Homo sapiens: one gene and its partner. The protein of the gene in region 1 interacts with the protein of each later gene in a pairwise test. Each region holds a gene or a part of one and is shown on either strand. Other genes may lie near its edges. The genes, in order: NSG2 and C3orf52.

Region 1 (4,974 bases):
TCTAATGGGGTCAATGACCCCTACCTGCCAAGGTCATGCTAAGTCCTAAATTAGCAATTTAAAAAGGGGTCCTCAACATCTTCCTCCTCAGTTGCAGCTAATCACCAGTTGCATTAAGTCAAAGGCATTATCACACCTTTATTTTCATATCTGACTCCATCGCCAGACCTCAGGGCAATGATTCTCTGTCATCCGTTTCTGTATCCCCCATGCCCAGCACAGCCTGGCCCTAGAAGCTGCCCAGTAGGCATCTGCTGCATGAAGGACATTGAGCTGGCAGATAAGCAGCCAGGTACACCTCTTGGTCCTTCCTTAGGACCACAACACCATCTCAGGCCCCAGTTGCCTGAGGATGGACATTCCCCTACAGTCCAATTCTAGCCCCAGCCCAACAGGACACTGTAGGGCTCACCCTGCCCTCCGGGACCCCCACCCCCAGCATCTTCCCCATCAGGCTCACTGAGCAGGAGATAAAGAACATTGCAAAGGAAGGTCAAGACTCTCAGACACATCTATCTTTATTTGTTTCCTGTCAGAAAATTTCAAGAATTACACCAAAAAATACTTCCGCCTCTGCTACCTACTGACAAAAATACACCACAAAATTATAAAGCGCTCAGCGGTTTTGCTAGGGACAACTTGTTATTCCGCTTTGAATGACAAATGAATTTACAGGTGACTCAGGGTGATTGGAGGTTGGGGGAGAAGGGAGGAAAAATCAGATGAGAGCGTTTGGCAGGATAGTTTGAGCTATGCTAGTCTTATTACCCAGCTGTTGCATACGATGATCTCAGCAACACAGCAAGCCACAAAAAAATACCCTTTACATGGCCTGTGGGAGACTTGTGAGGAAGCAGTACCACATCTCAAATAACCAATTCTCCCAGCTGGTTCTGGCCCTGTGGGTCCTGGAGCTGACACCCTGCAGAACTGGCCTCCCTGAAACATTTGTGAGAGGCAGGCGAATGCCTGATACGGTTCCAGGGAACTGGGAGGCCTGGTCAAGGCTGGATGCTGCCTCCTTGTCAGGAGCTTCTAGAACTCGGTTGGGGAGTTTGGACAAATGTCCCCTTTTAACACAACGAAGTGGGCAAAAGACAGTCCCATTTTTCAGCTTCCTTTAGAAACGATTTGGCATTGTGGTGGCCCCAACCTTCAGGTCTCTTCCTGGCTGTCACTTGAGGCTCCTGGTTGGAATCCTATTGTTGTTGTTATTGTTATCAGCACTTTGGGAAACAACAAACAAACAAAAACTTAAAAGTCAGGTGCCTGTGCTTATCGCTTGTGGCCTAGTGTCACATGCCTGTCCCGTGCCTTCCTTCTTGCAGCCGCACCTTCCTTCCCTCCCTCTCCCCCTGCTGCTGTCTCGTCAACATGGGCAGTATCCAGGTGTGGATCTAGAAAATGCAAGCAAAAGACAAAGAAAATCTGCCCACTCCTCAGCGTTTGCTGATGCAGAACCCACCGTCGCAGGGTGGGCATTCAGAGCCCAGGCCATGTGGGTCTGCCCAGGTCCTAGGATGGAGGCCCAGAAAGTTTGTGCTCATCTTGCAAAATGCACCAGAGGCCAGCACATTTCACTATGGGTTATGTGCGTTCTGGGCTTAGTAATGCCAAAATCAGCTCTTCTCTCCAGCTCGGCCATTCCTCATTTCCTGCGGGCCTACCCTGCAGACCACAGGCTAATGGAATAGTCCCGGTCTGTGTCACTCATACTCTGCAACCCTGGAGCCCCCACTGAAGCTACGTTTTCTTATCTAAGAAGCCCACAGAGTCTGTGCTCTTCACTGCCCTTCAACGTCTTCTGATGGAGCCAGTTTAATGCTTTTTGTTCATGTTCTTTGTTTCTTTCCTTTTCTGCTGTTACATTTTCCTAACAAAGAATAAGCAGTGGCTTTAAAAATATCTTACATGGGAACAATCAACACGAAACATGCCTTTGTACATGAGCCTGACTCGGCGACGAATCAACAATACCAAGGAACAAAAAGAAATATCGGTTCAGACAACTCCAGCACACACCACGTTTTTGGTGCGTTCTTCCCCCCACCCTGCCCTGCCCCGCCCCCGCCCCCATATCCCAGGAGTACAGTGTTGTCTTGTAACTGGAGCTTGGCTTAGCCAATGGGGGTCCTCCTCTCCACCCCGCCCCCCATTCTGGCTGGGGCAGGCCTCTAGTGGCCCTGGGTCTTGGGCGGCTTGGGCTCATGGATGACAGCGGCTGCTGACAGCCACGGCCCGATGGCCCGGGCAGTGCTCTGCTTGGCCACGCTGTAGTGGCTGATGACTGTGTAGAAGCGGCTTCTGGAATTGGGGTCCTGGGAGGAGTAGTAAGCATCCAGGGAGGCTGGGATACAGCGTTTGTGCTGGGGAAGAAAGAGACAGAGTCAGGGGTCATTCAGCAAACTGCTCCCAACCTGCCCAGCAACACAGCCACCCTGACTGGAGTGCAGCTGCATCGGGCTGTCAGCCAGAGGGCAGGTGACAGCTCCTGACCTGGGCCTGGCACGCAGCAGCCTTCCCAACACCAGCACCAGCACAAACAGCAAAGCTCCACTTAGAAGAAGCCAGACGACCTGAACCTGATATTGACACTGATTCAAGGCCAGCCTTCTCTGCATACTGACTGTCCGGCTGTAGTGGATGCTGTAGAGACCCCCACAGACTCCCTCTATCTGGCTGATTCACCTGTCCCCTTGTTGCCTCTCTGGGCTGTTGTTCACAGCCAATGACTATTTATTTCCTGTATTTTATACTTGCATCTCTTTTCTCTTATATCAAAAGTCTTGCCGGATGCGGTGGCTCACGCCTGTAATTCCAGCACTTTGGGAGGCTGAGGCAGGCAGATCATGAGGTCAGGAGTTCAACACCAGCCTGACCAACAGAGTGAAACCCCATCTCTACTAAAAATACAAAAAATAGCTGGGCATGGTGGTGCACACCTGTAATCCCAGCTACTCAGGAGGCTGAGGCAGAAGAATCGCTTGAACCCAGGAGGCAGAGATTGCAGTGAGCCGAGATGGCACCACTGCACTCCAGCGTGGGCGACAGAGTGAGACTCCGTCGCAAAAAAAAAAAAAAAAAAAAAAAAAAAAAGGCTTCATTCCTAACAACATTCATGTAATGATGTATTTGCATTATCCTACAATAAACATAGAACAGTCACAAAATAGCACCAATATGACTACTAAGAGGCAATGAACCTGGGGACTACCGGACGAACTTGGAGGTTTCTCTGCAACTCCATGTGTCCCTAGAATACACTCCACCAAAGGTGTGAGGCGAACATGCTGTCATCTACAACCGGTTGAAATATTTATTTTCTTTGCACGTTTATGTCCTTAACTTGATATAGAGCTAGGTTCTTTAAACAACGAACCTCTTGTTTTTTCTCATGTATTTATTTTTAAATATGTCAAACATTTACATATTTCAAGGACAAATATTTAAGAAGATAGATCCGAAGAAGCCTTGCGTCCATCCCTTCCTCCTGATGAACCATTTTTATTAATTTTTAAAATGTATCCTTCCTGAATTTCTTTCCAAAACAATAAGCAAATAGCACTCTCCTCCCCTTTGCCCACACATAGGCAGGACCTTCCTTCCATCACTCATCCTTACTGTCTTAATGAGCATTCTCTTTCCGTGTATGGAGGCCTGCCTTCCTCATTTTCCCAGTTGTAGTGACGTCCACTGGGTGGATGTGTCACAGTTTATTCAACTGTCCCCTACTGTTCCCATTGTTTTGAGTCTTCCAGAACCTCAGCTTCTTTTTTTTTGAGACAGAGTCTCGCTCTGTCCCCCCAGGCTGGAGTGCAATGGCGCGGCCTCGGCTCACTACAACCTCCACTTCCCAGGTTAAAGTGATTCTCCTGCCTCAGCCTCCCAAGTAGCTGGGATTACAGGCATGAGCCACCACGCCTGGCTAATTTTGTATTTTTAGTAGAGACGGGGTTTCTCCACGTTGGTCAGGATGGTCTCAGAACCTCAGCTTCTGACCACTTGGAGTGTAATCTAGGAAGGCAGATCTGAACCCCCTCCATGGAAGTCTAGGAAGTCAGATTATACCCTTGGTGGAGTGTATTCTAAGGACACATGGAGTTGCGGAGAAACCTCCACGTTCGTTCAGTAGTCTCCAGGTTCATTACCTCTTAGTAGTAACATTGGTGCTATTTTGTGACTGTTCTATGTATATTGTAGGATAAGGCAAATACATCATTACGTGAACGTTGTTAGGAGCCAAGACTTTTGATATAAGAGAAAAGAGATGCAAGTATATAATGGAGGAAATAAACAGTCATTGGCTGTGAGCAGTGGCCCAGAGAGGCAACCAGGTGATAGGTGAGTCAACCAGCTAGAGGCGGTCAGATTGGAGTGTAATCTAGGCAGTGCAGAACCGAAGTATACACATTTTCAGGCTGGCACACTTCCTATTTGATCTCCCCACATCAAAACATAATTATTGTGATGTCTTGGACAACCTTCTTAACTAAACACTCTCTACATTTAATTCCTCATATGTGAAATGGGAGCCAAAGAAACCCTATTTCTCAGAATGGTTGTACAGCTCAATTGAGATAATGTTTAAGGAAACATCTAGCAAAGGGTCTGATGTATTAGAGATACTCAGCAAATGGTAATTATAAATATTATCAGCTGTGTTCACTCTGAAACAGACTCTGTCTTTATTGCAACTAACATTTGTTGAGAGTTCATTATCTAATAGGCCCTTTGTTAACTGATTTTACTTAAATTCTCTCCTTAAGGCCTCCCAAAAATCCTGGGAAAAGGCATTATGAGCCCCCATTTTGCAGGCAAGAAAACGAGGTTCAGAGGGGCAAGAAAACTCCCAGAGGTCATGCAGCAGGTTCCGTTCTTTCAGAGAAGGAGTTTAATCAGAGTGTGGGTCAAGGGGAGACTTGGAGACAGAGCTTCAAAGAACCTCAGAGGCACCAGCCCTACCTTCACACCTCT
Region 2 (7,532 bases), on another chromosome or scaffold:
TGAAGCTTGGAGGCGGAAGTGTTAACTTTTGTTCTTCAGTAGGCAGGTCTTTGCAAAACTACCCAGAAAGGCTGAGGAAGCTGAGAGGCTAAAGAAAAACTGACAAATCCAGTTACTCAGAAAGAAACATTTAACAGGGTTTTAGGAACAGAAGCCATGCGTTGGGCAGCAGTGAGAGGAGATGGTGCATTCCTGCACCATTACCCCAAAGGCCCAGGGCTTAAATACCACAGAAAAAGGGTATGCATGCTTCAGAAGGGATGTGTTTTATAATTGCATAAGGGCAAGATTTATGGCATGTAGATAACGTTAAGGTTGTTTAGACCTGAGGGTGAGATTTATGGTAAGTATGTGCTCTTATACATGCAACAGTAGATGAAATAGAAATCTTAGAGGCATTTCCAGAGCTGGGATTAATCAGAAGTTAATACAGTGAAATAATAACTAAGACGGAATTTCTTTAGCCTTCAAAACTGTGCAGTTGGGGTGGACATAAAATGGGACAGTGAAAGCATCTCAGAACAGAAAGTTGGGGAGGGGACACCTGGGTACCCAGGGCAGGGTGTCCAGTGGGGAGTTATATTTTTTCACTCGAATTAAGAATTGTCAGCATGTGGTGATAATAAAAGCAGACCAACTTGTAGTAGGTTTTATTATTGCTGCTCATTCTCTACAGACTGTGCAGCCTTCATTGCCTGTACATGGGTTGGGCTTGCCCACTACTCTTCCCTTGTATGCCATTGAAGAATGACAAATTCAGGATCATGGCTTAGCTTAAAGCACTGAGTAGGGGCTTTGTATGTGCTAGGGAAAAGAGGCTACCTGTCCACCAGACTCACAATCGACATGGAAATTTTTTTAATGTCCATTTTTATGAGTGGAACCCAGGGAATTCTGTTATTTGAGACTCTTTAGGGAAAAGGTATTAATGGATTCTTTCCTTCCTCATAAGGAATTATAAATTTCTTGATTTGAAAGGTACAGAAACAAAAGCCTTCATCTTTTTCTCAAAGTCATTTTCTTTCTGGATAATTTGGAGGATCAGTTGAGTGTTCTCAAGGGTTCTCCTTTCTTCAATAATTCACCCTAGTCATGGAGAGGTGAGACCCTGAATAACACTTTACTAATGAAGTTTTGGTTGGGGCAAAATATTTTAAATATTTCAAAAACAAAACTGTGACAAGTAGGTGGATGCTTAGAAACATGATTTAAATTGATAACATCCTGGAGACCCTCATGTGATATCCCCCAACATTATACCCCAGATTCTTGCCTGACCCTAATCTCTTAATTTATACACCTTTTATGAGTAGGAACGCTGTGGTACTGAGATATAAGCAACGACTTCCTAAGTGACGTTGTGTTGAGTGGATTTGTTTGCCTTTCAGTTGTGAATAAGAGCTACATTTTATGATGTCATGTGGTTCTGGCAGACTGACAGTTTTCACAGGGTAATGCTCCCTGGTGTAGGGTGACTCATGGGAAAATCCTAGGCAGACAGCATTAACAAGCTATAAGCTGCCAAGGTCCTTTGGGGCAGGAACATGAGAGCAGTGCTAGACCCAGTACCTTGAAATTTCTTTCCATTTTCACCTGTTTATCTTTTCTTCAAATCGCTGATGTTTCTCTACCAAGATGGACACCCTTACCTGTGGTCTCCATATAATATCTTTCAGCTTCCTCTGACCCAGAGATCTTCAGATATCTCCTCCTCTCTCTAAGCATCCTCAGGTTCTTCTTAATTTATGCCTAGTGTTCCATTATTGGAATGCTAATCATGTAGAAGTTATTTATATCTTACTGCTCAAGGTCATCACCAAAGTCTGAATGCAAAAATTCGAAAAGTTCAACCTCAGGTATAAATGGGTTAACTCTTCAAATGCACTAGCATCCTCTCTCCTTCAAAGCAATCTTCCATCAGGATTCTTGCTACTTCATTTAGATATGTGTTTTTCTCTCCCTTCTTTCACTGGCACACTTCCAGAAAGAAAGGTCTGCATTTGAATCTTGCCTCCTGCAGACTCCCAAACCTCTTGTATCTATTGGTTCCCAATTTTTCTTCCCAAGATTACTAGCAATTGTCTGATCGTGGAAGCCAACATTTCTCTGTCTCCTGCCTTATTGTCAGCTTTTAGCTCTGCCAACTTCATTATACTCTTCTGAGTCTATAGAACTCCTGGACTTTAGGTTGATTTTGCTATTTTTGCTCTTGGCATCTGCATTGTGGGTTCATGAGGCTTCTCTTCAGCTTCGTGACTTTTCACATTCTTCATTCTTTTTCTTGGAGAGCTCATTCACTCCCAGGACAGCAGCCATGCCTCCAAGAAGGTGACTCCTAGATCTACATCTGTACAATTTTCCTGAGTTTTGGAAGTACTCTTGGCTAGAGATATTTATCTAAAAATAACTGTCATCATCTCAATTATTATACATGTGAAACTACCATTTGTTTGTATGCTATTTTAGTCTGCTTGGGCTACTATAACAGAATATCATAAACTAGGTAGCTTATACATAACAGAAATTTATTGCTTACAGTTCTGGAGGCTGGGAACTCCAAGATCAAAGTGTCAGCACACATTTGCTGTCTGGTGAGGGCACACTTTTTATTTCGTAGATCATGCCTTCTAGCTATATCTTCTATGGTATAAGGGGAAAGGCAGCTTTCTGGGCCTCTTTTATAAGGGCACTAATACCATTCAAAAGTGCTCTCCCCTCATGATCTAATCACCTCCCAAAGGCCCCACCCTCTAAGACCATCTGATATTGTTTGGATTTGTGTCCCTGCCCAAATCTCATGTTGAATGATAAGAGGGGCCTGGTGGGAGGTGATTGGATCATGGGGGTAGATTTCCCCTTTGCTATTCTCATGATAGTGTGTGAATTCTCATGAGATCTGATGGTTTAAAAGTGTGTGGCTCTTTGTTGTTTGCTCTTTCTCTCTCTCTCCTGCTCCCCCATGGTAAGACATGCTTGTTTCCCCTGAGCCTTCTGCTATAATTGTAAGTTTCCTGAGGGCTCCCATCCTTGCTTCCTGTTAAGCCCGCAGAACTGTAAGACAATTAAACCTCTTTTCTTCATAAATTGCCCAGTCTCAGGTAGTTCTTTATAGCAGTGTGAGAATGGACTAATACACGCTCACATTGGTGGTTAGATTTCAACATATGCATTTTTCGGGGAGACACAAACATTCAGACCATAACATATCCTTCATCCCAATTTGTTCATCTTTTCCCCATTCACTCACCCTTTATATAAGACCAAGTTTATTTTAGTTCTGCTACTATCCAATTGTGTAACTTTAGGCAAACTTGTCAAGCCTCTGGGCCTGTTTTCCCATTTATAAAATGTAAAGGATTTCGGAATCTGAGTCTATAAATATACCTTGACCCTAATACATGCTAATTCATTGACCTGAACAAATTATGCATTTTCTCTAAGCCTCAGTGTCTTCATTTAAAAATGAAAACAACAATATTTAACTCATTGGGTTAATGTGAGGATTATGTGAGGAAAATATATTCATAAGGTGCATAGTAGAATGTTTGCACGTCATACTTAATACAGTAGCTATTATTCTTCCTGTTCCTGGGCTTGATATCTTGGAAACCTTTTTGATTTCTTCTTTCTCATATCTAGATAATGGCCAAATCTTACCAGTTATTCCTTGGTAGTGTCTTGATAGCAACTTTCCCACTTACTACAAGGCACCATGCAGGATACTTTATGCATGTTGGTTTTCATCTTTACTATCACCTACATTGTAGGTGTTGATATTTCTGTTGGAGAAGTAGCTTCAGAGATTTAAGTGACTTGCTCAAGGTCACCTGGCTAACAAATAGCCAACAGGAGTTCAGACTGAGTCTGGCTGCCTTTAAAGCCAGCTCTGTTTCTACTATCCTGGGCTTTCTCATTAATTTTTTCTTTTTGTTCCTTCTGCTGTCAGTCAAATCAGTCTGTTCCAAACTTGTGCCTGTTGGCCTCTCTGCCTCATCTCTCCTCGTTTCATTTATCCCATCCATGACCACCCGATTAACCTCCATTAAACACCAGCCTCTACTTTCTTCGTGGGCGATGTTTAACAACACTCCATTACCCCTTGAAGGTATCTGGCGTTTAAGGGCTCTCTCTCTAGCTTAATTTCTTATATTCTAGCCAAAGAACTGTTTTCATGTTCCTTCAACATACAACACATGTTTTTGTGATTTTTAAAAATATGTTTTTTCTACACGAATAAGTATAGCCCAGATTATCTCATTAGTGACATAAAAACTCTCCTGACTGAGTAAGCCTGTCGTTGTTACTATTGTTATTATTTTGACACACACAACTATTTAGATAGGTCTTGGTACAGATTCATGATTTGAATGATACACATTAAATATGTGTCAGAGCTATTATGGGAGGCCTGTTTTCACACTTGGCATCTCTTCTCAGTGTCCTTGAGTTTAGCAGTTATTTGAACCTTGTATCTATCCTCTTGGCATCCCCTATTGTTTTCTGAGGCATTGATATCTATTATGGAAATCTACATGGTGGGTATAGAGCTCAAAGATACCCATTGAAATATTATTTATAGAAGTAGAAAGCTAAAAATGATAAATGTCATATTTAAGAAAATAGGTGAGCCTATTATGAACATTATGAAGCCATTGAAATAATCTTTGCAAGGAATTTTAAGCACATGGGAAATGGCTTTTGATATGTTTACAACAGAACAATCAGGATAAGTAAGCAATAATGGCAGCAAACAACAAAAAGCAGGATATAAATTACCTATTTGTTAGGACCTTAAATATATAATATCAAGTATAGGAGGAAAAAACCCTCTTGATTGCAAGATTATTCGTATTTTTTTCTTTGCTTTGTTACAATTTCCTGCACTTTGCAAAATTTTTTGCTATGAAGGCGTAACTTTTTTTTTAAATCATACAACATAATGTCATGACTTATAACAATTAAGGACGCAGGGATAATTCCCTACGTTTGGGGGTCCCCAAGATTACTCCTAGATTCAACAATTTGCTAGGAGGATACACAGGACTCAGCATGCAGTCCTACTGATCACTATGATCTATTACAGCAAAAGGATACATTACATCAAATGATTAATTACAGCAAAATCCAGAGAAAACCAGGAGCAAGCTTTCAAGTGTCCTCTCTCAGTGGAGTTGCACCAGACTTGTTTAATTCCTCCAGCGATAGGCTGTGACAACACATGTGAGATCTCATCTACTAGGGAAGCTTATTGGAGATTCAGTACCCGGGGTTTTCACTGGGGCTTGGTCATATACGTAGCCTCTGCCTACTATGCACTAAAAATCCAGACTCCCAGAAGGAAAGGAGATGTTAGCCACATTGTACAAACAGTTGAGGCACAGTGAGCCCCTCTCATCAGGGGAAAATCCAGGTTCTCAGACACCAGCCAGGACCAATTTTGAGGAGGCCTTTCTTATGCTAGCAATCTCAGGCCTGCTATATTAACTCTTTTCTGCACATTCCTTGCTCGTAATGCCTCGTATTTCCAGATGTCATCACAGAATAAGTAACCGGAATACCAGGAATCTTCCTCCTTTTTACCTGTCCTTCCATCTCAAACACTGAATTTATTCCACTATGGTCTTAAAGTCTATGGCAATATAAGCACCTGGTTCCTCCCACCTACGCCTTTCTCAGGGCCAGAGAGGTAGTCTCCTGTGTGGGACCAGCTGGTGAGGCTGTTGTGGAGCCAGGGGAGCATAATTAGCACAGTAGTGCTAGCTTCTGGCGCCTGGCTCCTCACTTTGTGTGATTTTCCTTTAGTTCCAACTACTTAAAAATCAATTAGATGGCAGTCATTAAACACAAGCAGCAATACATAACTAATTGTCCCAGGAATGTAATTCCTGCACACCCTGGGGCTCTGAATATAGTTTAGCTTCCCTTCTGCAAGCAGAGCATGTCAACATACCTGTCCTGTGAGACATAGTCTAGAGTGATGACTTCATGCTCATCCTCTGTCTTCCTGGGGAGACTTCAAGACATGGACTCGCATGCTCATTTTCTAGTCACCTCTGTTGTTTGAGTCGATGATGTCACTTCTTCATGGTGGTCTTTGCCAGCACAGAATTGGGAGGTGAGTCAATGCAGTTACTTGCTCCCACTTCCTGTCCTTCATCACTCATTGTTTTAGGCAAACTCGTCAACCCTCTGGGTCTGTTTTCCCATTTATAAAATGTAAATGATTTCGGAATCTGAGTCTATAAATATACCTTGACCCTAATACATGCTAATTCATTGACCTGAACAATTCCTGCACACCCTGGGGCTCTGAGTGTAGTTTAGCCACCCCCACCGTCTCCCAGTACCTGCCTTGACACCTGTGTACCTAGCTAAGCTGCAGGTTTAGTCTAATAAGGAAGTTCATATTCTTCCTACTCCCTTGGGCCCTTTCCCCAGTCTGTATTCAGTGGAATCTGAGACCCCTTTGCCATAAAACAAACTTTTTATTTTGATAGAGGCAAACCCCTGTATTTTACTCAATTTTGCTGAGTGGAGAAAGCATTTCTGCTTACACTTGCTTGCTGTGTTCAGCCTTTACCCTTGATGCTCATAGTTATGTTTAAGTATGGCAGTCAATGGAATAAATAAGTTTATTATTATATGCAGGTGTTTACTTTTGTTTTTCATTTCCACCTCCCCTACTTTCTTTAGTAACTTATGTTGATGAAGATGAAAATGAAATACTTGAATTATCATCAAACAAAACATTCTTCATCATGCTGAAGATTCCAGAGGAGTGTGTTGCTGAAGAGGAATTGCCTCACCTGCTCACCGAAAGGGTAATTCCATCTTATATATTGCCTAAGGAGTTCTTGACATTAGAATATGAATTTTGCTAGAATAATTGGCATAGAGCTATAGAGTAAGTAGCTTCAATTTTGGATTCTTTGTCTGGATTTTAGCAGAAAATGATGCTTATAAATATATTTTATGACCAAATACCACATGTTCTCACTTACAAGTGGGAGCTAAATGATGAGAACACATGGACACGAAGAGAGGAACAGACACTGGGGCCTACTTAAGGGCGGAGGGTGGGAAGAGGGAGAGGAGCAGGAAAAAAAGTAACTATTGGGTACTAGGCTTAGTACCTGGGTGACAAAATAATCTGTACAACAAACCGCCATGACACGAGTTTACCTATAGAAGAAACATGCACATGTATTCTCCTGAGCCTAAAATAAAACTTTGTTAAAAAAATAAGTAAATATCTTTACTGTAGTGCAAAGCCAGAGGGAAGATTCCTGGCCTCCAGCTGCATAAATGCTGGAGGACACTGTTCTTTTTACTCCCTTAGGTCCTACATTTAATTCAACCTATAGTATTCATTGAGGGTCTGTGATGTGCTAGACAGCATGCCAAGTGCCAGGGCCACATTGTCTGTGCCTTCAGGGGTCTCACAGTCCAAGTACAGGAAGTGACTAAAAAGATCGTTTTATAATAGTGTGGTATGTTCTAGTGTGTTGTACAGTGGCAAAGGAGGGGCATCT

Evidence for each region.
Region 2: the proteins of NSG2 (region 1) and C3orf52 interact in binary tests that used the Homo sapiens proteins (3 or more experiments, as listed by UniProt).

Annotation. Positions count from the first base shown.
Region 1 is NC_000005.10:174,104,706-174,109,679, reverse strand, and holds the end of NSG2 (neuronal vesicle trafficking-associated protein 2), read right to left. Parts: intron 2,367-4,974; coding exon 2,175-2,366; 3' UTR 501-2,174; downstream 1-500.
Region 2 is NC_000003.12:112,096,145-112,103,676, forward strand, and holds part of C3orf52 (TPA-induced transmembrane protein), read left to right. Parts: intron 1-6,693; coding exon 6,694-6,821; intron 6,822-7,532. UniProt on the Homo sapiens protein: Has a role in LIPH-mediated synthesis of 2-acyl lysophosphatidic acid (LPA). LPA is a bioactive lipid mediator involved in different biological processes, and necessary to promote hair formation and growth.